Homo sapiens: one gene and its partners. The protein of the gene in region 4 purifies or fractionates together with the protein of the main gene of each other region. This does not show direct contact. Each region holds a gene or a part of one and is shown on either strand. Other genes may lie near its edges.

Region 1 (4,397 bases), on a different chromosome or scaffold from region 4:
GTCTTCAGGTGCTACGTTCATATCATCGCTTGTGTATTCCTTGAAAGCCTTCAAGAAAAAAGGTAGGGTTATTAAAGGCAAAACATAACACCCATACATTCAGTATACTAACTTCTCAAAAAATAATTTAAATGCTTCACAAATAACCAGTGAGCAATTTAATAAAAAATAATTTATAAAAAATGGACACTATAACTGCCTACAATTTTAGTATATGTGCCACTGAAATAGGCAAAACATAACTGCCTATAAAGAGCTCTGGACTAGAATCCAAAAGTTAGCTTCACTTTCAACTGTCACCAGCTTTCTGCATTATTAGCCAGGTTAATTCAGGTTTCCATTTTTATCACTTAAATGGTTATGATACCAGACAGCCACATTAACCACACTGGTGAAGTATGAAGGTGAAATGAGTTGACGTATCTAAAAAGTACCAAGCACCTGATCGGTCCATGGTAGTACGGAATAAAATCTTATTACCAAATCTACGATACATCACTTTCTCTTATGACAGTTACAAAGATAGATTCAAATATACAAGTTAAATATGGCAGCTAGATTTTCAATTCAACCTTTTACTTTAGAGCTTAAGCCTATTCTCATCCATAGTCAGTCAGCTTCAGTATTACACAGCACAGACAGACAAGATGCACTGTAGGGAATGGTTAGAAACACAGGCTGGGGCTCAAACCCTAGTTCTACTTTACTAGCCCTGAAACTATGGGCACATTTTAAAATTTCTCTGTGCCTCAGTTTCTTTGTCTGTATGGGGCTATAACACTATCTACCCCATAAAGCCATTAGAAGATTAAACAAGTTAATACAAGTTAATGAAAAACACTCAGAAAAATACCTGACACTTTCAATAATGGTTAGTTATAATCACTAACCATCCTAACTTGGAATCAGGCTGCTCAGATTATTTTTCAAATTACTGAAAAATAAATGCTTCATATACCCTCAATTCCCAAACAAACTTAAGATTTCAAATTGGAAAGAATACTCTGCAAAATTTTGTTTACTAAATGACGCTATACCTGAGGTCTATCAGACACATATTTTGCACAATGGCGAATAAGTCGAATTGCTTCCATACTTGTGTCTGGGAAAGCTGCATTGCACGCAAATTCAGACAAACACTTCACTGCATCCTGGAAAGAATCAATGGTCGCTGGAAAGTGTTTTTCAAATACAAGGGCTAAAATAGAGAAAAATATATATTACTATAATTTTTCAATTATTCTTAGCTGTACCAAAAATACACCAACATCTAGATGTAATGCACTTCCTCTTAAAGGTTGTTACAGGTTCTGACATCCAACAGATACGAAGTTCAAGACTATCTTTACCACTTAACTGACTGCCCTGAGTGGTGAGAATAGTAAAACTTGTCTGTTTTGTTTACATTATAAACATAGCACCTAATACAGTGACTGGTACACGGTAGGTACTGATTCAACTTTGGTTGAATGAATATACAAAATTACTTAACCTCTCTGTATCTCGGTTTCTTGATATAAAATGGAAATAATAATAATATACACAGATAGCTGTAAGCACTACGTAAAATAATATAAGTGAAGTGCTTAGTGTAATACTTAAGCAAGCACGCAATAAATGATAGCTATGATGATGCCATGATTCTTGATGTTGATGGTCATCATTGTCATCTTCCATATAGGCTTAACTTATAATCTTAGTATTTCAGTCAGTCCCCCTTGAACTTAAGGGGACTCCTCCTTGAAGAAGGCTGTGCAATGTACTTACTGGTCAAAAATAAAGGCTTTGCTTTAATACTCCATGGGTCTCAAGACCATCTCCATCACTAGTTCTGTGACCTTACATAGACTGCTTAACCTTTCTGGGGCTGAGTTTCCTAATCTATTTTGAAAAAAGGGATGGACAATAATGTTTAACTGTGAAGATTAAAGAAATTACGTGAAAAGTGCACACAGTATTTGCCATATGGTAAATACTCAATAAATGTTAACTATAATAGTAATTTAATTGTTTTTATTTACTCTGGTTCTGTAGACAAAGCTTGGTAAACTTAAAGGCCATAATCTTATTGTTACTTGAATCATCTTCTGAACACGTTAAGGTTGCTTTTTTTTTTTCCTTTTACTTGAACACAGCTAAGAGAATACTCACTGACAATGTGCCCGGTTGTTTGGAATGCAAGTTCCACTATGCTTTCATCTTGATCAGATGCAGCTAGATGAAATACAGAGAAAATGTTCTTCCATCCAGATCGAATGTTAGCAGCTTGAGAATTAACCATCTGTGCTATACACCGTACAACCATATCTCGAATTGTTGGAGACCTAAAAATATTAATATAATTGCTTGGATATGCAAACCGATAAAACTCATCAGTTTTTCCCCCTTTCTTCTGTTTTTCTCCCTGCTGTGGAAAACAACAAGATTTTCCTTCTATTAAGCAATTCAACAAATATAGTACCTGTTCCGTTTCATTATATGTTCAAAAGGTCTTAAGAAATCCTTCTGGAATCTGAAGTTAGCAAGCTCCCCTTTCTCTAAGAACTTCATTGACAACTGCCTCAAGGAGTCTACTGCAAAAATAGCTACATCTTCATTAGGATTACACCCAACCTGTAATGGCGACAGAAATAAACGATGCTAATTAATATCAGCAGTAAAAATCTACAATTCTTTATTTTTTGTTTTAGAAAAAGTATAGAATAGCATAGATAGGTAAATCCTAAGATTTTCCATAAAGGCATTAAGTATGCTAAAACTATTTCTCAACAAGAAAAACAGATATTTTAAATCAAATTCTTAAAGCCCAGAGCAATCATTTCTAAAAAGAAAAACACCATTCACAGGGTTTTCTAATTTAATATTAAAAAGTAATAAATAATTGCTTGGAAGGGAAAAAGGCTCAATTTGATTACAAGGACATTCTAAACAAAAAATATACTACAAATGTAAACAAACACCATAGTTATTCAAATACCTTATTAAAATGATCTCCAATAACTTCCCAAATTCGAGACCACTGTAATCTTATTCTTCCCATGTTGTAATATGATATTTCTACTATTTTTTGTAGACTAAACATTCTTGGGTGTGTCGTGGAAAGTAATTCATCCATAGACACAGCACAGAGCCAACGGACAAAATCCACTGTAATATAAATACATTTTTTTTTTAGCTCAACATTAAAGTTATTTTAGCCCCAAGCCAGTTCCGAAGTAGAATAAATGCCCATACTTACCAATGGCATTTCCATCTAGCCTTGTAGATCCTGTGAATATTCTAGGGAAAATAAAACACAATTTAAAAAATTTATAAGTTACTGTTCTTATTCCAATTGAAAAGTATGTGGCATGGGGTACTAGCTATTTTTATGTTTTAAGGGAACAAAAAATTGGGTATTCAAATGAGTATTTTTCATCATTTAGTTTAGTAACAAGTGTAGTCTGGATGTTTCTCCCTCCCCTCCACCTCTACTCCATGTGAACCAGTTTACATTCAATATTATTATTAGGGTAAGTATATACTGCTGTAATTTTATCAGATTTACAAACCCCGGATAGATATGAGATTCTAAGAATAAGAAAAATATTAATTTGTAAAACTAATAATTGGCACACTACAGATTCTTTCCTGATTATTGTCTAGCATTAAGCAAGTTCTTAAAATGAAAAATTTGACGTATTTTTACCAGTAAAGTATATTTGATTAGAAAGTTCATTTACACTAAAAGTGACTTAATATAACCTTGCAAATAGTCTCAGTTTACCCAAGAATTGGCCAAACCACTTTCCTTAGGGCATTCAAATGTTTGGAGTTAAGCTAACACTGCCCAGCTTTGCCCATTCTTCTTTGCTGAGCTCTTTTTTTGTTTCAAAGTTTCATAAAAAATTTCAGCATAAACACATTAGTCCTCCTTTTTTAAAGTCTGCATTTTAACCCATATTCTGGGTTTGCAACCAAGAGTTTGACGTCACTTTCAAGAAGGATGACATTCCTCAACTTAGAATGCACAAAATAGGATTTGCATGATAAAAAGGAAAACTTTAAAGGCAGGAGCAGGTCACAGTAGTCATAGCAGTAACAGTAATAGCTACCAATCACAAGATGGGTTCTTTTCTAGTGTAATATCAATATTCACTCATTTGATAATCACAAATTCCTTATGAAGCATGTACTATTAAATCCCCAATTTTATAAACACAGAAACTGAGGCACAAAGATATTTAATAACTTCCTCTAAGTCACAGAACTAGTAAGTGCTAGAGCCAAGATTCAAACCAGGACAGGGTGATTACAGTCTATCCTATTAACCACTTTTCTATACTGCCTCACACTTACCTGAGCAAAAGGTATATTCAACCCTTTTTTCCTACTATCACAATCTAAATGTTCTGAGT
Region 2 (4,169 bases), on a different chromosome or scaffold from region 4:
CAGAAAAGAACTAATGTATATTAAACTGGATATATGTTTCTGAAATAATAAAGATCATAAACATCTGATCCCCCATTAAAAAATAATAATAATTACATAGACATTAAATAACATACCCTCTTAATATTATGTAGGTTATGACTCAGACTTAACTTTCGAGGTAAGAATAACATTTAGTAAATTACTCTTCAAAAATAAAAATATTTTCCAGAGCAGTTACTTCAGATCAGATCAAGCCCAGTTTCTTTTTTCTTTTTTTTTTTTGAGATGGAGTCTTGCTCTGTCTCCCAGGCTGGAGTGCAATGGTGTAATCTCGGCTCACTGCAACCTCTGCCTCCCGGGTTCAAGCAACGCTCCTGCCTCAGACTCCCAAGTAGCTGGGATTACAGGCACCTGCCATCATGCCCGGCTAAATTTTTATATTTTTGTAGAGACCGGGTTTCACCATGTTGGCCAAGCTGGTCTTGAACTCCTGACCTCAGGTGATCTGCCCACCTCAGCCTCCCAAAGTGCTGGGATTACAGGCATGAGCCACCACGCCCGGCTTCAAGCCCAATTTCTAAAAATTCAAATAAAAGAAAGATTTGTGGAACAAATGTAAAAGCTCATTATAAAAATATTAGTATGCTCTACCTCATATACTACAGATTTTTTTTTGAAGGGATAGACAAATGTATTTTAAGAACTGTCTACAATAATTTTCTCTAATTTAAACCCCACTTAACAAACAAAAAAGGAGTAAAATGACCACTTTAGCATCTCAGCCATCTATCACTTAAGAACCAAAACCTTAGGTTGAACATTACCCAGCTCTGGCATGCCCTGTCACAAGGGCACTGAATACTGCCTCTGTAACTGGGAGATCCTTAGTTTTCATAAATCCAAGAATCTTGCTGCAAAGGAAAAACGAAGATACTCATTGAAAGTATTTATAAGAACACTCTTTACAACATGTACAGAATTAGGCCTTGAGTTACTTTTGTTTTTAAAATATAATAGTAATATACATTTGTTTTAGAAACCACAAAGAAAGAACTAATCCCTTTGATCCCCTTCCCACAAAACCCCACTCTCTAATGTATCAACAGTCTTGAAGTACTATCGATACAAATACTAGATTTTTAAAAATCTGATTATCTGATTTGTCTTACACTACTAATTACCCTTTTAAAAGCATAGTTTCATAAGATTCTTTTAGATAAAAATGAAATTATGTATTCCAATTTATCCCTTATTTTCCAAACCTTCCATTCATAAGTAGTAATAAATTTTACATAAGCAGAGAAATGGTGCAACTGATTTTCTACACTACTTCCAGTTTTATAAATGAATACAGCTTAAATGGTTAAGAACATTTCCCTTAGGAAATATTTAAAAAAAAAAAAAAAAAAGCAAAGTCAGCTTTATAGCTCAACAACTTTATACCTCTCTCCAGTAAATCAAATTTTTAATTAAAATAGCAACTTTTACTTATCTTTTCTCTCTTACACGATAATTTTATATTTTATGTAAGTCAGATTACCAGATTTTCTAGATTAAAACAGTTCTGAAACAATTTCCTCCATTAGGAAGAAGCTTTAAAACAAAGAGTGAACAGACATTAGATTTACAAAATGTACAAATTTGTTCGCTTAAACATGTTCATACAGATCCATACCTGGCACCTTCAATATCTCCTACATTACAATAAGAAGCAATCAATCTCTGGTATGTCACCTGTCAATGAAATGGGCCAGTTAATTTTAAATATACTTTTTTTTCTGAGTAAAGAAAAAAAATGGTGGATGTGAAAATATATTCACAATAGCAACTACTTACTCGATTTGGTTGAATGTTTGCTTCCTCCATTTTTGCCAGGAAATCAGTTGGTGAGAATTTATATTCATTTTGAAGATAGACTTTAAGTAAAGCATTATAGTGACTCACATCATACACAGCACCTACAAATGAAATTTAAAATGAATTTTTAGAAAAGCATTGAAAATCCTATGCTTTAAAGTGGACCTAAATTTAACAAACAAAAAGAGTAAAACTATCACTTTAGCATTTCACCCATCCATCTTGGCGCTCAGACCTATCTACACAGATACTCTGTCACACAGAGCAAGCTAAGCATGTAAGACAGTAATTACTGAGTTACTGTATAGTTACAAGTAACTGCCTATTCGGATATTAAAAGGCCTCTTACTTATGAAGCACAAAATTATCTTCCTGTTAGAAAACGCTGACAATATCCCTATATTTAAAAGTGACTGTAAGATTTTTCTATATAAAGCAGTCCTCACATTACAGACACACTGTGAAGAATGGATTGTAACTTCAGTTCTTTCACACAGTAGGACTGTGCTGGCAATTCTGTCACTCAAAGCCTTCATTTTAAGGATGCATTCCATTTTCAGCTGATGAACATGATCTATGGTATGCTCTTGTTAATTATCTGTATTCTAATGACCTTTGTTTTCTTTGTATCCCTACTGTTTAGGGCCACATCAAATAAGGTTACCACACAGCCTTACTCTACTGAGTCATGACATCATGGTCTTTATATCAATTTTGTGGTAACATGTCTCACTACATTTTCATGCATTAAATTTCACATCTTTATTCAACTGCCTGTGACCATACAGGCCTATGGTTAGTATCTGGGGGTGAGAGTATGTGATTTTAGGCAGCAGAGAGCTGTTCCATTAAATTAATACACATTTTTATCTTAACAGATATGTTTCTTTCATACTATGTTTCAGGCACTATGCTAAGTGTTCCACATATAGTGGCTCACTCAAACTTCACAACAACTTTGAGACACTATTATCAGCCCCATCTTACAGATAGCTCAGATCTGTCAACAGCTCATTCTGTAATTTTGGACAAGTTACTTAAGCTAAAAGATCTCTTGTATCTTTATAAATCTGTAAACAAGAGTCAAACTGGCAAACTACAAGGTTTCTGGCAATATTAATTCAACAAGTATGTATCAAATGCCATTATACACAAAGCATCATGCTACTGTCAAACAGGAAAATAAAGAAGCCATGGATTCCATCCTTATAAAGCAGACACTTATACAGGAGAGACCTATCTGTAAAGAATGTTAATATAATAACACATTGTTAATCTTTATATGGAGGAATTAATGTTATTACTGCTGTGTAATGCTTTTTTCTATTTTAGAATGTAACCTTTTCTGCATATATTTCTCCCAGTTCAATGACTTACTGACATACAGAAATTTCTAATTTTTAGAGATTCAATATTTTAGCTTTACTTTTCTGCTCCTTTTATACTTATAAAATCCTTTTCCATTCTGAAAGTCAACATTTATCTATATAGTTTTTAACTTAAAAAAAAATCAACTTATCAAAATGTATTCTAGATGTATTCAAAACTGTGAAGGAAGAATCTGTCTTTATCCTGTAGTTTTTTTCACATAGGTCCTACTCACTTTTTGAAGGATAGTCCTAAATATTTTATTTATCTGTAGCTATACTTTCTTGGATTCTTTTCTCTATTTTCTTTTATAACTAGAAGAGGTATGGATTCTTAAACATTTAGTGAGTCCAGCTAATTACTGTGAGCTGATTTTCTGGGATTTTGCAGATTAAACAATCACATCATCTAAAAATAATAACTTCTTGTATTGTTTCACATCTTATTTCATTGCATTATACATGATTGTTGTCGGTTTTAGATTTTTAACACATTAAAGAAGCATCTTTCTATACTTTAAGATTTTTTTAAATCAGGAATGAACATTAAATTGTATTAAACCATCTTTTTTCAAATTATTTTTTGAATACGTACTATGTTACATGACATAAAACTGAAAAGGTATAAAAAGGTCAAGTAAAACCTGTATCCAGTGTTCATCATCCTTCTAGAAATATTTTAATATTGTATACACATGCACGTGTAAAAACACTTTTCTTCAAAATGGTATCATTCTATACATACTGGTCTACACCTTAATTTTTATTTATACTCTGGAGAACACCCCCATTGGCATATAAAGAGCTTCTTCATTTCTTAAAACAGTTACACAGTAATCTATTTTACGGGTACTCCATAATTTATTTACCTAATCCCCTAGAGAAGAATATTTGAATTGGTTCCAATTTCTTACTATTACAAACAAGCTACAATGAAGAATATCCTTTTGCATATGTGAGTAT
Region 3 (4,397 bases), on a different chromosome or scaffold from region 4:
CAGGCATGGTGGCTCGCGCCTGTAATCCCAGCACTTTGGGAGGCCGAGGCAGGCAGATCATGAGGTCAGGAGATCTAGACCATCCTGGCTAACACGGTGAAACCCCATCTCTACTAAAACAAAAACAAAAACAAAAAATTAGCTGGGCATGGTGGCAGGTACCTATAGTCCTAGCTACTAGGGAGGCTGGGCAGGACAATAGCGTGAACCCAGGAGGCGGAGCTTGCAGTGAGCTGAGATCGCACCACTGCACTCCAGCCTGGGTGACAGAGCAAGACTCCATCTCAAAAAAAATGAAAAAACAAAACAAAACTCATCTTGTTTGATTGCTCCTTGCCGTATGCAAGGCTCCTTGGTGTACCGTGCTGGCAAGGAAGATAATAAATACTTGTTGACTGAACTATAATGTAATGGTTAAGTATACAGACTTTGGAGCCAGACTGCCCCAGTTCAAATGCAGGGCTCTGCTACTTTTTGGCTACGTGATCTTCAGCAAACAACTTCTCTGCTTCAGTTTTCCTCATCTGCAAAATAGGGATAACAGTACCTCTATCTCATCAACTGTGAGGATTGAATGAGTTAAATCAGGTAATAAACTTAGAATAGCACCTGTCCCATACTAAACACTCAATAAATGTTAGCTATATTATTGAAATGGCTTCTCAGGAACCAGACTTCATTTAGATTGCTTAGAGAAGGTGAAGTTTCTGATTTTTAACATTTAGATGGCAATGTTAACTTAAAGAAAAAAAGGAACAGTTTTTTCCACAGGCAGCTGGCTGACACATTTCACTATGATCTCATTCAGCCTCCTTCCCATGTGGGCTGAGGTAGCCCTGCTCCTAAAAACAGAACATGGCTGCTGACATGGTCTCCTCAATCAGTTCCAAACACCAACCTCAAGAAAACACTTTTAAGATTTAATGGTCTTCTAAACTTGCTTATCTCCTTTGAAAGAGGAAGCCTGTTTAGAAGGCACTGAAATTTGTAGGGAAAAGTGACTAGCTTTAGGAATGTGGGTCTTCAGAGAAAAACACAAAACGTAATTATGAAGGCCATTTTACCCTTCCAAGAGAATTTTAACAGAATTCCATCAAGAGTGTTTTAAAAGGAAATAAGTGAAAAATAGACATTTAAACAAGTAAACATCAAGCTCCAAAATTAAACTAAAGTACCCAATATACCCAGAAAGTCTGGCCCATTTAAAAACCCACTTTGCAATTTTAGCTTAAAGTGTGTATTTGTTCATCTTCCTTGGTCTCACAGAACTGGGACTGAAACTGAAATTGTGATATCAGGAAGGAGAGAAGACATAGCTGGTGGAGGCTGTCAATTCTTTTCTCCTGAGTGTTGGAGGACAGTATTTTGGATGAAGGTCCTCATGACTGCTAGGAACAAAGTGCCTCAGCATTAGGTACCACGTTTAGAAAAAGACACTGAAACCAAATGGGAAAGACAACAGAACAATGTGGCATATTATGGCAGTTCTAGGAGAGAGAACCAGGAAAGCAACAAAGCATTCATAAGGAAGAGCCCAGCACAGGGAAAGACTAATTCCTAGAAGACATGTTTTTGATAGCCTTATACTCAAAGCAAGGTCAGGCCAGCAGCAGACATCACCCGGGAGCTGATCAGAAATGGAGAAGCAGAATCTGCATTTTAACCAGATCCCAGGGGATTCACACACAGAAAAGCCTGAGGGGCTCTGCTCTACAAGGCAGTGGGCCCCAAACCAGGCTGCCTCTCAGAATCACCTGCAAACTTCAAAAGGAAAAAAGGCAGATGTTGGGTCCCTATTCCAGACCAAGTGAGTCAATCATACTCTTTCTGGATATTGCCCAAGCACGTACCATTTTTCTTCTTCAGTTTCGGAGGGCAATTTTGATGCACATCCTCTGTTGAGAGTCACTGCTCCAGAACAAAGTAAAGATCTAGTCTCAAAAGACAAAGAAAAGCTATGCATTCTAATGAGACATGTATATGTGGGGTGAAAATACAGATACAGAGAGCAGTGGGAAGTTAAGGAAAAAAAAAAGCAATCATTGTTTCCACTTAAAAACTCTTCTGCTGCTCAGCCCTAGTGGGAAGAGGAACCTAACCAATCTTATCTCAGGAGGAAACACCTTATTTTCTCAGGCAAGTGCCTACCTGTCCACAGCACCAGCTTGTCAGGCACCTACCTTGCTTGTCTGATTTGGTTTGATCCCAGGTCCTCGAACCAACAGTGGAACTTTGATATCAAACTCATACAGCTGTCTCTTGTCTATTGGCAAGGAAAACTGTCCTGAAAACAAAACACACAATGTAAAGATGGAGCCAAGACAGGAGCCTTGCTCATGTTATGTTTCACTCATTTAATCCACAGCCAAAACTAAAACAACTTTGTTCTACTGATTCTGGTGTTTTAATAGAAAGCTGAAATTTGCCTGGGTCTCTTGTTACTACAAGGCAGGAAAACAACAAATTCATCTTCTCTAAACAAATGACTAGAAGGGACTCCCTGGCTTATGATAGAACAAAATAAGCAAAAATAATGACAGGAAAGTATTGAAACACAAATACATAAAAAATTATGCATGCTACTCAGCCTCATCACAACTGAATGAAGTTTACTCCAAAAACTGTCAAATGAACAAAAACACCTATCCTGTGTTTCCTGAATAAACTGCATCTCAAAATAACCAAATAACTGATAAGGGGAAGTTCTTCTCTGAGGAATTTCAGCTAATAAATACAAAAGAAAGGACAGGATTACAAAATCAATATTTTGCAGTTTCTGAGGGAATAATGAATTTAGGCAGCAATCATCAATGGAACAACAGAAAAGCTCATAGGAAGAGCTAAGGCTGAAACCACCTGACTCATCAATCAACACCAGCACTCCAAAAACAGTGCAGCCAGATGCCACGGGCCTCATGACATGATGCAACAGGAAGTACACAGCAGCAGGTGAGGATGCACTGTCACCTGAAAATGCAAACTTCTATCAAGTCCCTAATCTAACTACCAATCTATAGGAAATGCTAACTAGAGATGAACAAGTTAAGGCACTATAAGACAGCAGTTAGCCAAATTCAAAATGTGAGACATTCTGATGGACAAAGACCCACTTCTCCCTGTAAATTCGTGGCAAATGACAGAGTTAGGAGATACAAGAACTAAAGGTAGTATGTGGACTTTGCCTGCATCTTTTTTTTTTTTTTTGAGATGGAGTCTCGCTCTGTCACCCACACTGGAGTGCAGTGGCACGATCTTGGCTTACTGCAACCTCTGCCTCCTGGGTTCAAGAGATTCTCCTGCCTCAGCCTCCCGAGTAGCTGAGACTACAGGCATGTGCCACCACACCTGGCTAATTTTTGTATTTTTAGTAGAGAAAGAGTTATGCCATGTTGGCCAGGCTGATCTGGAACTCCTGGCCTCAGGTGATCCACCTGCCTTGGCCTCCCAAAGTGCTGGGATTATAGGTGTGAGCCACTGAGGCTGGTGGTCTGCATCTTGATACATAATAACCAGAGTCAGATGCATAATCCGGTGTTGAATCCTGGAGTCATGTGTATGGGAGTTGCTTCAAAACCTTCTAGTAACAAAAGAAAAACACAGGGAGAGTAGGAAGAATTCAAAAGACTGGCCTCATGCAGCTGAAAATCTAAGCTGGATAATGGAGGTTATTTTACTATTCTCTACTTTGAGTGTTTAAAAATATTCACAGGCCAGGCGTGTGGCTCACGTCTGTACTCCTAGCACTTAGGGAGGCTGAGGTAGGCAGATTACCTGAGGTCAGGAGTTCAAGACCAGTCTGGCCAACATGGCAAAAACCCATCTCTACTAAAAATACAAAAATTGGCCAGGCGTGGTGGCGTGTGCCTGTAGTCCCAGCTACTCGAGAGGTTGAGGCAGGAGAATTGCTTGAATCTGGGAGGCAGAGATTGCTGTGAGCCGAGATCACGCTACTGTACTCCAGCCTGGGTGACAGAGCGAGATTCTGTCCCCCCACCAGCCCCCCAAAAAAATCACAATAATGCATTAAATGCCTAAGCGATCTCCTCCTATGCAAGCAAGTCTCAAGTGAATCCCATTCAAGTGGACATTTATATATGTGGAAAGAAGAAAACATTTGCTTTTAACAACAGAAGGTCCAAGCAGAAAGCATGAAAGTCAAGGACACAGAGCTGACTCATCCTGCAGCTTTTGAAAAAAACAAAAACACCCAAAAAACAAATTCCATGAATGGCAAGAAAGTTTTCCCAAGACAACCTCCTTTTGGTCTTCCTATCTCAAATGCCTTCCATACGGCCTGCCTCCAACCCATCAAGCTCATGCTCTGCTCCCACTCCTAGAACACCATGTCATCTTGCATGTGAAACAGCAAATAATGAAACCTGGTTTCTCCACGTGGG
Region 4 (4,397 bases):
CAATGAAACCCCGTCTCTACTAAAAATACAAAAAATTAGCTGGGCATGGCGGCACGCGCCTGCAGTCCCAGCTACTAGGGAGGCTGAGACAGGAGAATCGCTTGAACCTGGGAGGTGGAGGTTGCAGTGAGCCAAGATCACACCACTGCACTCTAGCCTGGGAGACAGAGCGAGACTCCATCTCAAAAAAAAAAACAAACAAAAAAACCCCACAAAAACAGAAAACCCCAATATTTTATTTATTTATTTAAAAAAAACCCATACAGGCTGGGAACAGTGGCTCACGACTGTATTCCCAGCACTTTGGGAGGCTGAGGTGGGGAGGTGGGTGGATTGTTTGAGCCCAGAAGTTTGAGAACAGCCTGGGCAACATGGCGAAACCCATCTGTACAAAAAATACAAAAATTAGCCAGGCGTGGTGGCGTGCACTTGTGGTCCCAGTTACTGGGGAGGCAGAGGTGGGAGGATTGCTTGAGCCCTGGGAGGCGAAGTTGCAGTGAGGTGTGAGAGCACCACTGCACTCCAGCCTGGCCAACAGAGTGAGACCGTCTCAAAAGATAGATAGATAGATAGATAGATAGATAGATAGATAGATAGATAGATATAGACAGACAGAGAGACAGACAGACAGACACACACACACACATACATAGATACATAGATAGATAAAATAAAAGGCCTGGCACAGTGGCTCACACCTATAATCCCAGCATTTTGGGAGGCCAAAGTGGGTGGATCACTTGAGGTCAGGAGTTCGAGACCAGCCTGGCCAACATGGTGAAATCTCGTGTCTACTACAAATACAAAAATTAGCTGGGCATGGTGGTGTACACCTATAGTCCCAGCTACTTGGGAGGCTGAGGCATGAGAATTACTTGAACCCTGGAGGCAGAGGATGCAGTGAGCCGAGATCACACCACTATACTCCAGCCTGGGCAACAGAGACTCCGTCTCAAAATAAATAAATAAATAAATATTAAAAAATACACAGAGGGCAGCAAAGTTAACTCCCAATATTTTACAAATCCACCTACAGTGTAACAAAGATTAGTACAATTGCAATAGCAAACAATATTTCGGCTGGGCGCATGGCTCACGCCTGTAATCCCAGCACTTTGGGAGGCTGAGGTGGGTGGATCACTTGAGGTCAGGAGTTCGAAACCAGCCTAGCCAACATGGTGAATTCCCATCTCTACCAAAAATATAAAAAATTAGCCAGTACTGTTGGCACATGCCTATAATCCCAGCTATGCAGGAGGCTGAGGCAGGAGAATTGCTTGAATCCTGGAGGCGGAGGTTGCAGTGAGCCGAGATAATGCCACTGGACTCCAGCCTGGATGACAGAGCAAGAGTCCATCTCAAAAACAACAACAACAACAACAGATTTCTAACTAAAGAGAAAACAACAAATATCTTTCTTTTTTTTTTTCTTTTTTGAGACAGAGTCTCGCTCTGCCACCCAGGCTGGAGTGCAGTGGCACAATCTCGGCTCACTGCAAGCTCCGCCTCCCTGGTTCACGCCATTCTCCTGCTTCAGCCTCCTGAGTAGCTGGGGCTACAGGCGCCTGCCACCGCGCCCGGCTAATTTTTTGTATTTTTAGTAGAGACGGGGTTTCACCGTGTTAGCCAGGATGGTCTCAATCTCCTGACCTCATGATCCGCCCGCCTTGGCCTCCCAAAGTGCTGGTATTACAGGCGTGAGCCACTGTGCCCGACCACAACAAATATCTCTTACAGCGACTTTTTTTTTTTTTGAGATGGAGTTTCGTTCTTGTTGACCAGGTTGGAGTGCAATGGCGCAATCTTGCCTCACCGCAACCTCCGTCTCCCAGGTTCAAGTGATTCTCCTGCCTTGGCTTCCAGAGTAGCTAGGATTATAGGCATGCGCCACCATGCCCAGCTAATTTTGTATTTTTTAGTAGAGACAGGGTTTCTCCATGTTTGTCAGGCTGGTCTCCAACTCCTGACCTCAGGTGATCTGCCCACCTTGGCCTCCGAAGTGCTGGGATTACAGGCACGAGCCACTACGCCCGGCAAGCGACTTTTTTTTTTTGAGACAGAGTCTCACTCTGTCACTCAGCAGGCTGGAGTGTAGTGGCATGATCACAGCTCACTGCAGCCTTGACCTCTTAGGCCCAGGTGATCCTCCCAACTCAGCGTCCCAAGTAGCTGGGACTACAGGCATGTGCCGCCACATCAGCTAATTTCTTATTTTTCATAGAGACAGGGTTTCACCACGTTGCCCATGCTGGTCTTGAATTCCTAGGCTCATGTGATTTGCCCACCGTGGCCTCCCAAAGTACTGGGATTACATCATGAGTCACCACACCCAGCTGGTTCTACCCCTTTTTACGCATGCTTTAACACTTCCCAAAACTCTCTTTTCATGTGGTGCAAGGCCAGTTCCCATGGCTGTGGAGAATATAAAAAAAGCACCAGACATCAACATAGCCTTTGATGAGCATCCAATCGAGCAGTGAAGAGGAAATTCCCACAGGCAGCAAGTGGTCAGAGGCAAGCAAACACCCCTGAAGTTCAAAAGAGAAAAGGAGTGCTACTCTCTCCTGTGACTGCAGGAATTTCCCAGGAAACCTTCTATTGACTTTCAATAAAGCAAGAGAAAGCAAAAGAGACTACGTATAGGGGCCGTGATGGCAGCTGCCCATTATAAAAGCAGGAATGTAGGATCCAACTTGAAAAACTCAGTGACGACACCAGATCCTCCCTACTTCAACCTCAGAAGGCATTTCCAAGGCCAAAGAAGAAGTCAGGCTGGAGAGGACCTTCTGTGAGTTACTTTCCTAGAGGTGGTATTGAAGCTTTGGAAGAGTCTGGGCTTGCAAAGCAAGTCAATTAACAGGAGAAAAGTAGAGGCCAAAAGGATATCTTGATAGGTCACTGACCTAAGAAAGCAAGGAGAAGAGGAAATGACTGCCAAAGGCAAGGAAATAGAAAGAATAGGAGTCTTAGGAAAGGAAGTCTCAGGAAAAGAAGGGTGGTGAGTAGCACCATGGCCATGGGGAGCTTGTGCCATCATTCTGTGAACACCCACCTTGTACCAGGCACTAAGGGAGTCACTTCTCTTATGCCCATGTATTTAATCCTCATACCCCAGCCACAAAGCAGGTGGTTTTACAGCTCAATATACAGTTTTCAATTTTCATTGAGACTTGGTCTTAGAGATTATCCAAGAATGGGTTATTTGGCCGGGTGCGGTGGCTCTTGCCTGTAATCCCAGCACTTTGGGAGGCCGAGGTGGGCAGATCACCTGAGGTCAGGAGTTCGAGACCAGCCTGGCCAACATGGTGAAACTCCATTTCTACTAAAAATACAAAAATTGGCTGGGCGTGGTGGCACATGTGCACACGTCTGTAATCCCAGCTACTCAGGAGGCCGAGGTAGGAGAATCGCTTGAACCCAGGAGGCAGAGGTTGCAGTGAGCCAAGATCATCTCAAAAAAGAAAAAAAAGAAAGAATGTGTTATTTGGCTGGGCACAGTGGCTCATGCCTGTAATTCCAGCACTTTGGGAGGCCAAGGCAGGAGGACTGCTTGAGCCCAGAAGTTCAAGACCAGCCTGAGCAACATAGTGAGACTCTGTCTCAACAACAACAACAACAAAAAGACAGGTGTGGTGGTGCACACCTGTAGTCCCAGCTACTTGGGAGGCTGAGGTGGGAGGATTGCTTGAGCTCAGGAGGTCAAGGCTGCAGTTAGCCCCTGCTCACACCAAAAACAATGTTATTTAATTTCTAAGTGTCTGGAGATCTGTTATTGATTTTTAGTTTCTTTCTTTCAATTGTAGTTAGAGAACACATTCTGATTTCATTTTTTCTTTAAATTTTCATTATTTCTTAAAATTTTAAATAGAGATGTGGTCTCACTATGCTGCCCAGGTAGGTCTCAAATTCCTGGACTCAATCCTCCCACCTCAACCTCCCAAAGTGCTGGGATAACAGGCTTGAGCCACTGTGGTTGGCCTGATTTCAAATCTTTTACATTTTTTAAGTTTTATTTTATATTCCAGGATATGGCCTATTTGGGTGAATGTTCCATGGGCTTGAAAAAAATGTTCATTCTGTTGTTGCTGTGTGCAGTGTTCTATAAATTTCAGATAGCTTTTGTTAATTAATGGTGTTAAGTTCTTCTATATCCTAGCTGACACTAGCTGATTTTCTGTTTAGCTGTTCGTTCTTTTGTTTTGTTTTGTTTTTGAGATGGAGTTTTGCTTTTGTTGAATATACCTGTTAGAAGATCTGGATTTCAGGCTTTCCAGCACCCCATCTGGGATATATGGGAACCTGGGAACTCACTGTCATGTCTTTCCTCAAGCCCCAATATCCCTAGATAGTCTGCCTTCTTCTTTCCACCTTTCAGAGTCTTCCTATGTTTGCTCTAT
Region 5 (4,397 bases), about 33 Mb from region 4:
TTTCTGACTTGCCCTCCCTCTTATTCCAGCACAATTCCTAGTAGGGAATCCACATGGCATGTCAGAGGCTGTCCATTAACCCAAGCTCATTAGGGGAGTCACTGACACCAGAGAAGGCTTGTGAGCTCTTCAAGGGCAGGGGCCAGGTCTGTGCCTTCCAGGTGCTGGGTAAATATTGTGCAGTAGAGGGCTTGTTTCAGGGTCTCGTGCACATGTCGCAAGCCTTCTCCAAGCAGCCTTGCAGTGATAATGCAATCAAATAAACAGAAACAAAGAATAAAACATTTAAAGACTGGATTCCATTCATCTTACCATCAGTAAAAAAATATGATCTGGTCCCATCTTGTCTAACATAAAAGTTTTCTCCAAGTTTGCTGCTGGCTTTAAACCTAAGCATGGCATGATCATACAGTCCGTAGTCACGAAACAAGACACTTTTGCCTGGTTTTAATACCTATGAAACAAAAGCAGGCTGAACATGACTTTGGAGAACCCTGTCAAAATAAAACCTGATTAAGTTAGGACTTAAAATAAATTTGTGATAGTTACTAAGGGGACAGACTGAAATGCCCATAATACGGAACCAAAATGGCCTACTACTTAAAAAGATAGTAAGACCAGGCAGGGCTCCATAACACTAAGACACTTCTTTTTTTTTTTTTTTTGAGATGGAGTCTTGCTCTGTCGCCCAGGCTGGAGTGCAGTGGCATAATCTCAGCTCACTGCAACCTCCGTCTCCCACGTTCAAGTGATTCTCGTGTCTCAGCCTCCCGAGTAGCTGGGATTATAGGTGCCCGCCACCATGCCCGGCTAATTTTTGTATTTTAGTAGAGATGAGGTTTCACCATGTTGGCCAGGCTAGTCTCGAACTCCTGACCTCAAGTAATTTGCCCACCTCAGTCTCCCAAAGTTGGGATTACAGGCGTGAGCCACCTCGCTCGTCCCTGAAGACAATTCTTGAGTACCTCCAAGAGCACCCTGGAATGTCCAGTGTCACAGGATTAAAATGTTAGAGACCAACCTGGGCAATATAGTGAGACCCCATCTCTACACAAAAATTAAAAATTAGCTGGATCTGGTAGTGCGTCCTGTAGTCCCAACTACTTCAGAGGCTGAGGTGGGAGAACTGCTTGAGCCCAGGAAGTTGAGGCTGCAGTGAGCCACGTCCATGCCACTGCACTCCAGCCTGAGTGACACAGCAAGACCCTGTCTCAAAAATAAATAAATAAGTGTTAGAGACAATAAATGAAAGTGTTATCCTCATTGAAGCACTTTCTTGCAACATTTTATTCACCATCTCCTAGTACTCAAACTGTATTCAACTGTCTCTTAAAAAAACAAACAAACAAACAAACAAAAAACCAGAATGTCGTTTTGGCTCTTTACTGATTCAGGTTGGTTTTCCTCATTCTGAGCCTCAGCTCTCATTTCATTGTGCCACAATGTATAGCTCAATCACGGTGCTAATGACTGATACATGCCTAGCATTTGACTGCTTAACCATACATTTTCTCATTGTATCTTCACCCAACTGTGGGACAAAGGAATGTGATTATTATTCTCACATGAGACACGGAAACCAATACTCAACAGGGTTAAGTGATCTGCCAATGATCATACATTAGCTTTTTTTAGACAAGGTCTTGCTATGTTGGCCAGGCTGGTTTCAAACTCCTGACCTCAAGTGATTCACCTGCCTTGGCATCCCAAAGTGTTGGGATTACAGGCATGAAACACCACACCTGGCCAAACTGTGTACTCTTGACCACTAAACCATAACTCCTCTCACCTTATAGCAGGACTCCATGGATCCCAGGTAACTGCAAAATCATCCTTGTCCCAGGGCTGGCGAAGCTCTGAAGAGCAGCCATGGCACTGCACAAATCAGAATTTAGGGTGGATGTTTTATGCCAGAGGACCCCTTTCTATACACTCACTACACAGCCTACCTAGTGAGAATGGAGAGACTATGTGAATCTAGACAGTACATGAGCCTCATGAGGGAAGGTAAGTAAAAGAATCCAGACTGTCCAACCCTCAAGTGCAGGCCCCAAATCACTAACCTTGTAAATGTTTTGTAAGACAAGGTGCATCTTATCAGGATGAACAGCTGACAGCACAAATATCAACATAACAACATCCACAGACTCTGGCGGTACATGATCCAGAAGATCATCTTTAGTCAGATCACACTGGAATACCTTGCATCTTTCTGTATCATATAAAGGATTTTGCTACAGGGGGAAGAAATACAAATGAATTTTAATGCAACCACTAGGCTGATACATATAGAAAAATACAACATCAAAAGGCGATCCAATTTCCACTTGTATACATAGAAATTATCACTGTTACCAGATAAAACTGATTAATAAATCACTCACTATAAAGCATGTAATATTCACTACTGCTACAGGAGCAAGACTTCATTTTAATAAATCATTTTTAACTGAGGAGACAATAAGAGTATCACGTACTCAAAACTGAGCATTTTAGAAGCATATTATTTCCAGAGGGATGATGATCCAAAACTGGCCTCTGCTTCTTTTTGTTTTTTAAAGAGACAGGGTCTCACTCTGTCTGCTGGGCTAGAGTGCAGTGGCATGATCATGGTTCACTGCAGCCTTCACCTCCTGAGCCCAAGTTATCCTCCCACTTCAGCCTCCTAAGTAGCTGGAACTACAGGTGTGCACCACTGCATCTGGCTAAATTTTTATTTTTATTTTTGTAAAGATGGGATCTTGCTATGTTGTACAGGCTAGTCTTGAACTCCTGGCCTCAAGTGATCCTCCCACTTCAGCCTTCCAAAGTGCTGGGATTACAGGCATGAGCCACTATGTCCTGCTGGCCTCTGGCTTCCTTAATCCTCCTTTGAATCATCTGCTTAAAGCCTAAACCCTATGAGAAGCCCTTCTAATTCCCCTTGATGAGATGCTCCCGCAGTTCTTCTGGGGTATATTTTCTCTTTATGCAGCAAGCTAAATAAACTTAACCTTTTTTTGACTACAAATGTGTTCCTGGTACATTTTGGTTGGTAGGCTTCAACACATGTATAGGAGTATTATGAAGAAAAACATTAAACTTCTATTTCATGTAAATGAGGACCTGAATAAATAGATATACAAAGTTACTGGATGGGAAAATTAAATGCAAAATTAAAAAGATGTCAATTCTATTCATAATTCCATTTGTAAATCCAATGCAATCTAAACTGATTCCCAACAGATTTCTAGAAACTAGACAGGGTGAATCTAATTCATCATAAAGTAAAAATCTTTAAGAATAGCCAAGTCAATTTTTAAAATGATGAACAATGAGGTAGGTATGGTGGCTCATGCCTGTAATCCCAGCAACCTGGGAGACTGAAGTGAAAGGATCGCTTGAGTTCAAAGCTGCAGTGAGCTATGATCCATGCCACTGCAAGCTAGCCTGGAAAACAGAGCAAGATCTCATCTTTAAAAAAATAGGCCAGGTGCGGTGGCTCACGCCTGTAATCCCAGCACTTTGGGAGGCCAAGGCAGGTGGATCATGAGGTCAGGAGTTTGAGACCAGCCTGGCCAATATGGTGAAACCCCATCTCTACTAAAAATACAAAAATTAGCTGGGCGTGGTGACCCGCACCTGTAGTCCCAGTTACTGGGAAGACTGAGGCAGAAGAATCGCTTGAACCTGGGAGGCGGAGGTTGTAGTGAGCCGAGATCATGCCACTGCACGCCAGCCTGCATGATAGAGACTCTGTCTCAAAAATAAATAAATAAATAAATAAATAAATAAATAAAATAGAATGAAGAATAATAAAGGAGAAGATACACTACTGGATATCAAAATATATTACAAAACGTAGTAATAAAACAACATGGTTTGAGAATGGAGACAAATGTATCACTGAGACAAAACAGAGTCCCAAAACAGACCTGTATATACTGTATATATAAACAGGAATTTTGTATATTATATGATAAAAGATAGACAAAGGTGACAATTAGACAAAAAGGTAGATAATAAAGATGACAATTATGAGTGAGGAAAAAATTTCTCATTCAATTTACTGTGTTTAGAAGAACTGGCTACCCTTGAGACAAATGACTACCCTTGAGACACAGGCCCACGGTACCAGTTCAAATTTGGAGAAGCAGAACATTAGAGAACGACCCCCTCTCCCACACCCCACCATCGAATCTCCAAGAATAACAGGAAATTGCAGCTGGGAGAGCCACAACAGATAGACTCTTTGGGAAACGGTACAAAGGGAAGACCCAAATCCAAGAGAGGAGACAAAAACAAGTTGCTAGAGGGGTTTGAAGTCTCTGGTGCCCACAGCAACAACAAACCTCACAGACAGCAACAACAGACTTCAAACAACAGCCCAATTCCTGACTAGATTGTTACAAATCCCT
Region 6 (3,804 bases), on a different chromosome or scaffold from region 4:
TGGGTTCAAACAATTCTCCTGCCTCAGCCTCCCGAGTAGCTGGGATTACAGGCACCCGCCACCACCCCCAGCTGATTTCAGGGACTGATTTTAAAAGAGAATGCCCTCTATAAATTCTCAGCATCGGACAACGTTCCTGTGTACTTTCTAAGTATTAGCAAAAAAAAAGTATATGGAATGATTTTAAATCCTTTTTTCCCGAGTACTAGCTGGGCACTAGATGATTAAATGAAGACAAGCTGGATTGATTTGAACTGAACTTCAGGTGAAGTGGGACCTTAGCGAGGTGGAAGGCTGGAGATAGAAGCACCAAGTCCAGATAGAGACATGGAGATGACAGAGGATTTATTTTAGAATTATCTTAGGTTTCATGTTTCATAAGTTGGACAGACTCTGAAAGTTCGTAGAAGACTTTTCTATATATTTTTGAATATGGAAGACAAGTTATCAAAAATGAGAAGAAATAAACCCACTTCTGTTTTTTCAGATGTAGAAAATGTATAGAGATGGTGAGAGACTGTCCATTTGTGAGGTAAAGAAGGTGTAAAGAGAGCACATGTGTGTTTATTTTTTATTAGACAAGCTTTTGTTTTGTAGTAATGATGGGAATTCATATTTTACAGAAGAAAAATCAAAGTACTAAACATTTAGAACCCTTGTTTCTGATACTTATCTCCCATGCTGCCCTCCCTTTATTCAGTATGTGCATTTCTTACCCACTAACTGTGTATGAACCAGATAGCCATCAGCTGCCTGGATTATGTGACAGACACAGTGGCAGTCATTTGTACTGTATTTCTTTTCACCCTGGGAATCAAGATCTAAATCTACCAGAAATAGTTATTACTAAAAAACCAAGGATGCGATTTGTGACACTGTAGCCTCATCTGCTGGGTAACTGCATGCTTCTAGGGCCACTTCATTCTCTGTCATATTTTGTGTATCATAATTTCAGTGGCTACTTTATTTCTACAGTTCCTCTTGCCCATCCTCCTCAAGGAGAAAGCCTTTTTGGCAGGCTCAGGTTAGTGGCTGGCAACTAATTAGGTGACTGGCAACTAAAATTTCTTATCTGTTGCAAGAGTATCTCCTATTTATAATGGTTATCCAGTTGTTTATGTACAAATAAACGTTTTTATAAGATACTTTAAGAAAAGAAGTTATTTTTCTTTAAAAAGGAGTTCTGTTCTTTTTAAAATGGAATCTGACAGGATCTTTTGTTTTTAAGAAGTTTCATTCTTTTTTTAAGCAAAAACTACAGCTTGGAGTTTTTTAAATACATAGTGAATGTTTTGACCAAATACATGTAATTTTACTTAAACTATTTTAACAATGACTTTTCTAAGTGGAAGACCCTAATAGAAATTGACATGTCCTAGTCAGTGATATGGACTGAGAACTTGATAACAAATCCCACTGCTGGCTACTAAGAAGCTTTATCGGGTTTAATAGGGAAAAGCCTTGTACTGATACATATTGTTCATGTTTACATGTAAATGTGTACTTGTATACATAGTGTGTACTTACATGCATTACATGCATATTATGTGTGTCAAGTAAGTCACGTGTGTCCTGACTTTAATGACTCAGTGCTCATGTCTGAGGTGTTCCTTTGAGCTCTGAGGTGATGTGCATAAAAGTTTTAGTCTGCTCCCAGGTGAACCAGGTTAAATATGAGGGCTCTGGTTTAAAGCAAGGACCAGACTGCATCCTGAGGGCTTCCGTGTGCCCCTGGGATTGTGAGATAATCACATCCACATACTAACAGTCAAGTAGAGAGAAGGAAGTTGGATGGAATGAGGGGAGGACTCAGGGCTGACCCCTCTTCCAGACACCACAGAGTTTCTCTCTGTATACAAAGCCTCTGTACACATTACAAGATTCCACTTGGCCCTGTTGGAGGAATGGCTGCCGTGGCTTTCTTAATGAGCCTTGTGGATATAGCTCTGATATTACACTGTGGGTGTTGAACATGTCAGTCAGACTGGGTAGGGGTTCCTTACAGACAAAGGCCTCATCTAATTAACAGCTGCTTCACTCCACTCATTGCTTCTTTCTACTGGATCTTAACAAATGTTTATTGGGTTAAATTATAGATGATAGATGATGAAATGATACATAGTATACATAATCTTGGGATATTATTAAAGCAGAATTTTGTCTTTTCAGCAAACCATTCCTCAAGCAACTGCAGCAAAATATCCCCGGACCATTCATCCTGAAAGTAGTACCTCAGCTTCCAGATCACTTGGAACCAGATCAGCTCACACCCAGTCTCTCACAAGTGTTCATTCCATAAAAGTGGTTGACTAAAGTGAATATGTCCATAGTGGGGTCTTTTAATCCCTCTGGTCTTACCAAGGGTTAGAAGTCTTTTGGTTTTAACTTTTCCATATTGTTAGAACATCATGGAGACATCATGTTCATCTGTTCAAAATTACAAGAGGCTTTTTCAAGCTCTACCATGCTTTGTAACTATATGTAGAAATTATTTTAATGTTATTTTTTATTTAAGCAATTAAGTAAAACTTTTTTAAATTAAAAAAGAAACTGGACTTTATTTCTTTAATATGTTTAGCCTGTTGCTGATTACAGCATCAAAATATATAAATTTATTTTCACTATTTATAAAACACTAAATCATTTCCAATATTACACAGCTGTAATTCACTCAAAGTGTTGAGAGGGAACCTTACTAAAAACAAAGTATTAGAACTAGTGGAAACTAGGATATTTTTATTTTTAATTTAAAAAAGACCAAGTGTAATAATGATTTTTTTTTTTTTTTTTTTTGAGACAGAGTCTCGCTCTGTCACCCAGGTTGGAATGCAATGGTGTGACCTCGGCTCACTGCCTCCTCCTCCCATGTTCAAGCAATTCTCCTGCCCCAGCCTCCCGAGTATCTGGGATTACAAGTGCCAGCCACCATGCCCGGCTAATTTTTGTATCTTTTTTTAGTAGAGACAAGGTTTCATCATGTTGGCCAGGCTGGTCCCGAATTCCTGACCTCAAGTGATCCGCCCGCCTGAGCCTCCCAAAGTGCTGGGATTACAGGCATGAGCCACCACGCGCGGCCCCGTTTTTTGTGGCTTTAACATGTTAGTCTTCATTTTTCCAGGACTCTAACAACAGTTGAAAATAGACGGAAACGGCAACACCTATGAATCATTTTTTAATGCCAAAAGGGAAAACATTTGTAATACTAGCACTAGAGTTACAGAAGTATCAGAAATTTCCTGTTAGAATGAGCCTGTTTCTGGTGTTCTTTCTCGCCTTATTATTTGAAACTCTGCAGCACTGAACCTACCTTGTTCTCCCCGAACATCTAAACACTGTTCTGTGGTGGCGTAGCCCTGAGCAACTCAGCAAACCTAGGCCTGGGCAGAAATTTTTCAATGGCTGGCCAATACAAAGAAACCATCTGGGCAGAACTGATTTAGGTGAACAAGACTTGGCTTCTAATGGTTTCATTGCTGACTGATTGTGTGGGCCAGACAATTAAATGAATCTCTGGATCCTCATCTGTGAAATAAGAATAAAATCTACCTACTATTTCACAGTACTTATACATAAAAATGAACAGGTTCTAAAGAGTTTGTCCAGGACCTCAATTTCCATCTCTTTTAACAGAGTGGATGGAGTTAATCATCTGAAGCCTCTTCTAATTTGAATATAAGTTCTCTGCACTAATTTTTATTATAGGAAATAGGTTTTCTTGCTGCCTCACATTGTTCACAGGACATCAGAGAATAAATGTGATATAGGCAAATAGAATCCTAAGGCCTTTCTGAATTACTAGGCTGT
Region 7 (4,397 bases), about 110 Mb from region 4:
GGGAGAGAAGAGGGAAGTGGGAAGCTGAATTCAAATGTTTGGTTCTTGTGGACTAGCAACAAGGAAGTGAAGACAGATGAAAGAGAAACCTTGAGTGCCTTGGATCAGTTAATCAGTAACTCACTGACGCTGGCACTAAACTAGATCCCGCTGACATCCAGTGGCAATTGACCGGGTAAGGCTAGACAAGTTTGTAAGTCTCTTGCTCAGTGCAAAAGAACCAGCCACAGAGAGAAGAGGCTGCTTGGAGAATAAGCTACAGAAAACAACTAAAGAGCAAAACCCAGAGAGCCCTCCAGGGACCTGTGTGGTGTCTGAGGCAGAGGCTGAATTCCAAGACAGAGTCCAGCACCCACTTTTTTTGAAACCCTTAGCATTTTCTTCTAGCCTGGAGTCAGGTACTAGGGAAGAAAGAAGACCCAGAAGAAGGGTGTGCTTTTTAAGGTGTGGTGCGCTATTAAGAATGCTGGACTGCCGGGAGTAGTGGCTCGTGCCTGTAATCTCAACACTTTGGGAGGTAGAGGTCGGAGGATTGCTTGAGCACAGGAGTTCGAGACCAGCCTGGAAATATAGTGAGACCCTGTCTCTACAAAATTTCTTTTAAAAATTAGCGGGGCGGGGCGCAGTGGCTCACGCCTGTAATTCCAGCACTGCGGGAGGCCGAGGCAGGCGGGTCACGAGGTCAGGAGATCAAGACCAGCCTGGCTAACACGGTGAAACCCTGTCTCTACTAAAAATACAAAAAAAAAATTAGTTGGGCGTGCTGGCGGGTGCCTATAATGCCAGCTACTAGGGAGGTTGAGGCAGGAGAATCGCTTGAAACCGGGAGGCGGAGGTTGCAGTGAGCCGAGATCCCCCCACTGCACTCCAGCCTGGACAACAGAGCGAGACTCCACCTCCAAAAAAAAAAAAAAATAGCATAACATGGTGGCACACGCCCGTAGTCCCAGCTACTCAGGAGGCTGAGGGGCAAGGACCTCTTGAGCCCTGGAGGTGGAGGCTGCAGTGAACCAAGATCGTGCCAGTGACAGAGGGAGACCCTGTCTCAAAAAAATATACAAAAATAAAAGCATGCTAGACTTAGGTGTCTTAGGTATCCATCGCAACTCAGCCACCAATTGGCTGTGTGAACGATGACATTCCTGAGCCCAGTTTCTTTATGCTGAAACCAGCTCAAAAATACTGCAAATCTAAAACCAGCTCAGTACAAGCCAGTTGCAACTTCCCAGTACCACAGCAGTTTTAGGAGCACCAAAACTCCAGCTTCTGGAATAACTTAAGACATTTTCAGCAACTGTCCAAGGCAATTCTCATCTCCAGTTTGAAAAACATTGCAAAACACTACCCGGTCCATTCTAGCAGTAAATCTATCAATACTACCTCAAGAAAAATAATCGGGCAACATTTAGATAAAACCAACATCTAAATCTTAGGATGTCAGAAAGCACACATTAAAATCATGAGGAATCCTCTTAGACCCACCACAAGATGGCAACAATCCAGAAGTGGTAAGTGAGCAAGTCGATGTGGAAAAATCTCTACAGCACATAACCTAAACACCACTTCCAAAAACATAGCCCACATCGTTTATAAACAAAGTCGTGAATGTTTTCTGGAACCAGACCTGAATTTACAACCTCCTAAACTCCATGTAGGGAATGCAGTTTCTTTACTCTCCAGACAGCTTATCAGAAACTCTCTACCTGTCTATACTTTGCATAAATGGTGAATTTGAAAATAAAAGTAACCCAGCGTTTGTCACAAATTTCCCGCCTATTACCACTGCATTCCTGAGTAGTAATAGGATGTAACAGAACATGGAGGCAGACAGACGTGGGTTCAAATTCCAAGTCTGTTCCACGTTCGTCTGTCCCATGTTACATCTTAGGCAAGAAACTAACCTCTCTGAACCTCATCAGTAACATAGGATAAGAATTCCTGCCTCTCTTGATTATTGTGTATTATAAAAAGACATAAAATAAGTGCCATCACGTTAGGAATACATTAATGTTCACTTCCTCCTTTTCTTCCAGAATCCTTTAAAATATTTACAGAACAATAAATAACCAGAAAAACTATCCCCCCTTATGGTAAATCCCAATCATGCCAAAATTCCTCAGACCAAAATAGATACCAAATGAAAAACAGCTTTTTTGTACTTAGACATAGCGTGTGTACCATATGTGTTCTCATGATACACACATGCTTATAAAAAGATATTGTCAGAAGGTAACCACTGTTGGCTAGGTGCGATGACTCAGGCCTGTAATCCCAGCACTTTGGGAGGCCAAGGCAGGCGGATCATCTGAGGTCAGGAGTTCGAGACCAGTCTGGCCAACATGGCAAAACCCCATCTCTACTAAAAATACAAAAATTAGCCGGGCATGATGGCGGGCGCCTGTAATCCCAGTTACTCAGGAGGCTGAGGCAGGAGAATCACTTGAACCCAGGAGGTAGAGGTTGCAGTGAGCCAAGATCTACTGCACTCTAGCCTGGGTGATAGAGAGAGACTCTGTCTCAAAAAAAAAAAAAAAAAAGAAGAAGAAGAAGGTAACCACTGTTAATTCTACCCAACAATATTAGGTTAAATCATATGACATTGCTGATGTTTGACCACCTTATATTTACAACTATAGCAGTTTCATATAGTTGGAAATAGCAAATCTAGGGCAAGGATTCGAGGCCAGGAGCAGTGGTTCATAACTGTAATCCCAGCACCTTGAGAGGCCGAGGAGGGAGGATCACTTGAGCCCAGGAGTTCAAAACTACCCTGAGCAACATAGTGAGACCTCATGTCTAAAATTAAAAATCGTATTTAAAAAATAAAGCAAGGATTCAATATCTGTCTGCCCTCCCTAGATTTCCTGAAAACAACAAGATCATTAGAAATCAGTAACTCTGCGTTGTCATCCCCATTCTGCCATTTATTAGCTGTGTGACTTTTAAGAAAATCATTTAGCAACTTTGGGCCCTGGCTTCCAGATTTATACGATACATATGGTAGATTTATCTTTTTCTGCTCTGTAATTTAATGACTATAATAAGGCATAGGCACTTAGGTTAGTGCCACCAAAATACATAGCTGGTAAGAACATTTTAAACTTAGCTATCCACGTTATCTTGGTTGTCCCTTCTGCATCTATCCTGCCCTCTTCCACTACGAAGCACAGAAGACAGAGATCTTGATGATAATAAAATAAAGCTGTGTAAACTTCTTCACAGGCTTCTTAAAATGCACTTCTAATTTGGCACACCCTACCACAGCAGTACTGGATTTCTCCTTAAACAAAAATGGTCACGGGTGTCAAAGAGATGTGAGTGAGTGTCCACTGAACTGTGTCTAAATGATTTTCCTTGTGACCAAAGCCAGCCTGGAATAAGCCCCTGCTAGTGAGAAGAGAGAACATGCTTCCCAGGCCGAGGAGGCATTGTTCAAAGTAATGAGTTCTGCACCACTTGGTCCACAATTCACAGCTGAGTCTGATTTTCCTAGACAAAGAGCAATAACCAAATGGAGGATGCTCTTCAGCAAGCTTCCCTGGGTTTATCATTGTTTTTAGACTCATGAGGTGGTGAAGGAAAGATGAGAGTTTCCCTAACCGTCTATGTCCTAGGAATGACAAGAGGAGATGTTTGTCAACCCTGGTCAACATTATGCCAGGATTTTGTCATGGCTGTAATGGATTTCAAGAGTTTAAATTCACTAAAAATGTCTAGAAATTATTCCATCTCAAAAGTTAAATGTTTAAATACTCTATTGTATTCCTTTTATCCTTTTATCATAATTTTATATCCTCTTTTTTTTTTTTTTTTTTTTGTTCAGGGAAAAAATAGTTATGATCCTTCAGGCATGCAGACCAACATTCTTAGAAGGAAGCTGCAGAAGGTTCATTATGTCATGAAACACAGAGCCAGAACAAAGGATTACTGAATCACTCACCTTATCTTCATCTAAGAAACCTGAGAATTACAAGGTTTCTGTTTCTTCTAAACTCTGTGCTGCACTTGCCAAGACTACAAGTTTTAGAGTAGAGTTTGTACTTCAAAAATGTAAGCAAATAGGTGCACATAATGCTTCCTATCCTAGATGTACAGCCTTATCTAAATTACTCAGTTTCAGCATTTGTTTCTGAATCTGCAAGTCTGAGTGATTAGCACCAAATCAATCGTTCTCCTTAAGAGTACCAAAGGTAGTATCTTCACTCTGAACGTCTGAAGTGGTATTAGAATTATTTCAGGACTCACAGCTCTTAGTTCATTCAGAACAGAAATCTGGATTTATTCATCTTGCCTTATATATAATACGTTCTCAATAAACATTTGTTGACTAAGTGAATAAATTAAGTAAAAAACATTTCGTTAAGAATTTTCACAGTATTTTACATTATGGCACCCTA

Evidence for each region.
Region 1: the proteins of PRKAR2A (region 4) and ARFGEF1 fractionate together in Homo sapiens (co-fractionation; one large-scale study listed by BioGRID). This does not show direct contact.
Region 2: the proteins of PRKAR2A (region 4) and LRPPRC fractionate together in Homo sapiens (co-fractionation; one large-scale study listed by BioGRID). This does not show direct contact.
Region 3: the proteins of PRKAR2A (region 4) and GNS fractionate together in Homo sapiens (co-fractionation; one large-scale study listed by BioGRID). This does not show direct contact.
Region 5: the proteins of PRKAR2A (region 4) and METTL6 purify together in Homo sapiens (pull-down; one large-scale study listed by IntAct). This does not show direct contact.
Region 6: the proteins of PRKAR2A (region 4) and POC5 purify together in Homo sapiens (co-immunoprecipitation; one large-scale study listed by IntAct). This does not show direct contact.
Region 7: the proteins of PRKAR2A (region 4) and PLCH1 fractionate together in Homo sapiens (co-fractionation; one large-scale study listed by BioGRID). This does not show direct contact.

The regions. Positions count from the first base shown.
Region 1 is NC_000008.11:67,224,986-67,229,382, forward strand, and holds part of ARFGEF1 (brefeldin A-inhibited guanine nucleotide-exchange protein 1), read right to left. Parts: intron 3,280-4,397; coding exon 3,239-3,279; intron 3,148-3,238; coding exon 2,978-3,147; intron 2,614-2,977; coding exon 2,462-2,613; intron 2,325-2,461; coding exon 2,152-2,324; intron 1,199-2,151; coding exon 1,038-1,198; intron 49-1,037; coding exon 1-48. UniProt on the Homo sapiens protein: Promotes guanine-nucleotide exchange on ARF1 and ARF3. Promotes the activation of ARF1/ARF3 through replacement of GDP with GTP. Involved in vesicular trafficking.
Region 2 is NC_000002.12:43,975,337-43,979,505, forward strand, and holds part of LRPPRC (leucine-rich PPR motif-containing protein, mitochondrial precursor), read right to left. Parts: intron 1,941-4,169; coding exon 1,819-1,940; intron 1,717-1,818; coding exon 1,658-1,716; intron 894-1,657; coding exon 807-893; intron 1-806. UniProt on the Homo sapiens protein: May play a role in RNA metabolism in both nuclei and mitochondria. In the nucleus binds to HNRPA1-associated poly(A) mRNAs and is part of nmRNP complexes at late stages of mRNA maturation which are possibly associated with nuclear mRNA export.
Region 3 is NC_000012.12:64,734,824-64,739,220, forward strand, and holds part of GNS (N-acetylglucosamine-6-sulfatase precursor), read right to left. Parts: intron 2,285-4,397; coding exon 2,181-2,284; intron 1-2,180. UniProt on the Homo sapiens protein: Hydrolyzes 6-sulfate groups in N-acetyl-d-glucosaminide units of heparin sulfate and keratan sulfate.
Region 4 is NC_000003.12:48,767,740-48,772,136, forward strand, and holds part of PRKAR2A (cAMP-dependent protein kinase type II-alpha regulatory subunit), read right to left. Parts: intron 1-4,397. UniProt on the Homo sapiens protein: Regulatory subunit of the cAMP-dependent protein kinases involved in cAMP signaling in cells. Type II regulatory chains mediate membrane association by binding to anchoring proteins, including the MAP2 kinase.
Region 5 is NC_000003.12:15,413,709-15,418,105, forward strand, and holds part of METTL6 (tRNA N(3)-cytidine methyltransferase METTL6), read right to left. Parts: intron 2,235-4,397; coding exon 2,064-2,234; intron 1,950-2,063; coding exon of another isoform or gene 1,926-1,949; exon of another isoform or gene 1,911-1,925; intron 1,876-1,910; coding exon of another isoform or gene 1,790-1,875; intron 1,207-1,789; coding exon of another isoform or gene 1,101-1,206; exon of another isoform or gene 455-1,100; coding exon 313-454; exon of another isoform or gene 238-312; coding exon of another isoform or gene 99-237; exon of another isoform or gene 1-98. UniProt on the Homo sapiens protein: S-adenosyl-L-methionine-dependent methyltransferase that mediates N(3)-methylcytidine modification of residue 32 of the tRNA anticodon loop of tRNA(Ser), including tRNA(Ser)(UGA) and tRNA(Ser)(GCU).
Region 6 is NC_000005.10:75,672,944-75,676,747, reverse strand, and holds the end of POC5 (centrosomal protein POC5), read left to right. Parts: intron 1-2,169; coding exon 2,170-2,313; 3' UTR 2,314-2,624; downstream 2,625-3,804. UniProt on the Homo sapiens protein: Essential for the assembly of the distal half of centrioles, required for centriole elongation. Acts as a negative regulator of centriole elongation.
Region 7 is NC_000003.12:155,737,888-155,742,284, forward strand, and holds part of PLCH1 (1-phosphatidylinositol 4,5-bisphosphate phosphodiesterase eta-1), read right to left. Parts: intron 69-4,397; exon of another isoform or gene 1-68. UniProt on the Homo sapiens protein: The production of the second messenger molecules diacylglycerol (DAG) and inositol 1,4,5-trisphosphate (IP3) is mediated by calcium-activated phosphatidylinositol-specific phospholipase C enzymes.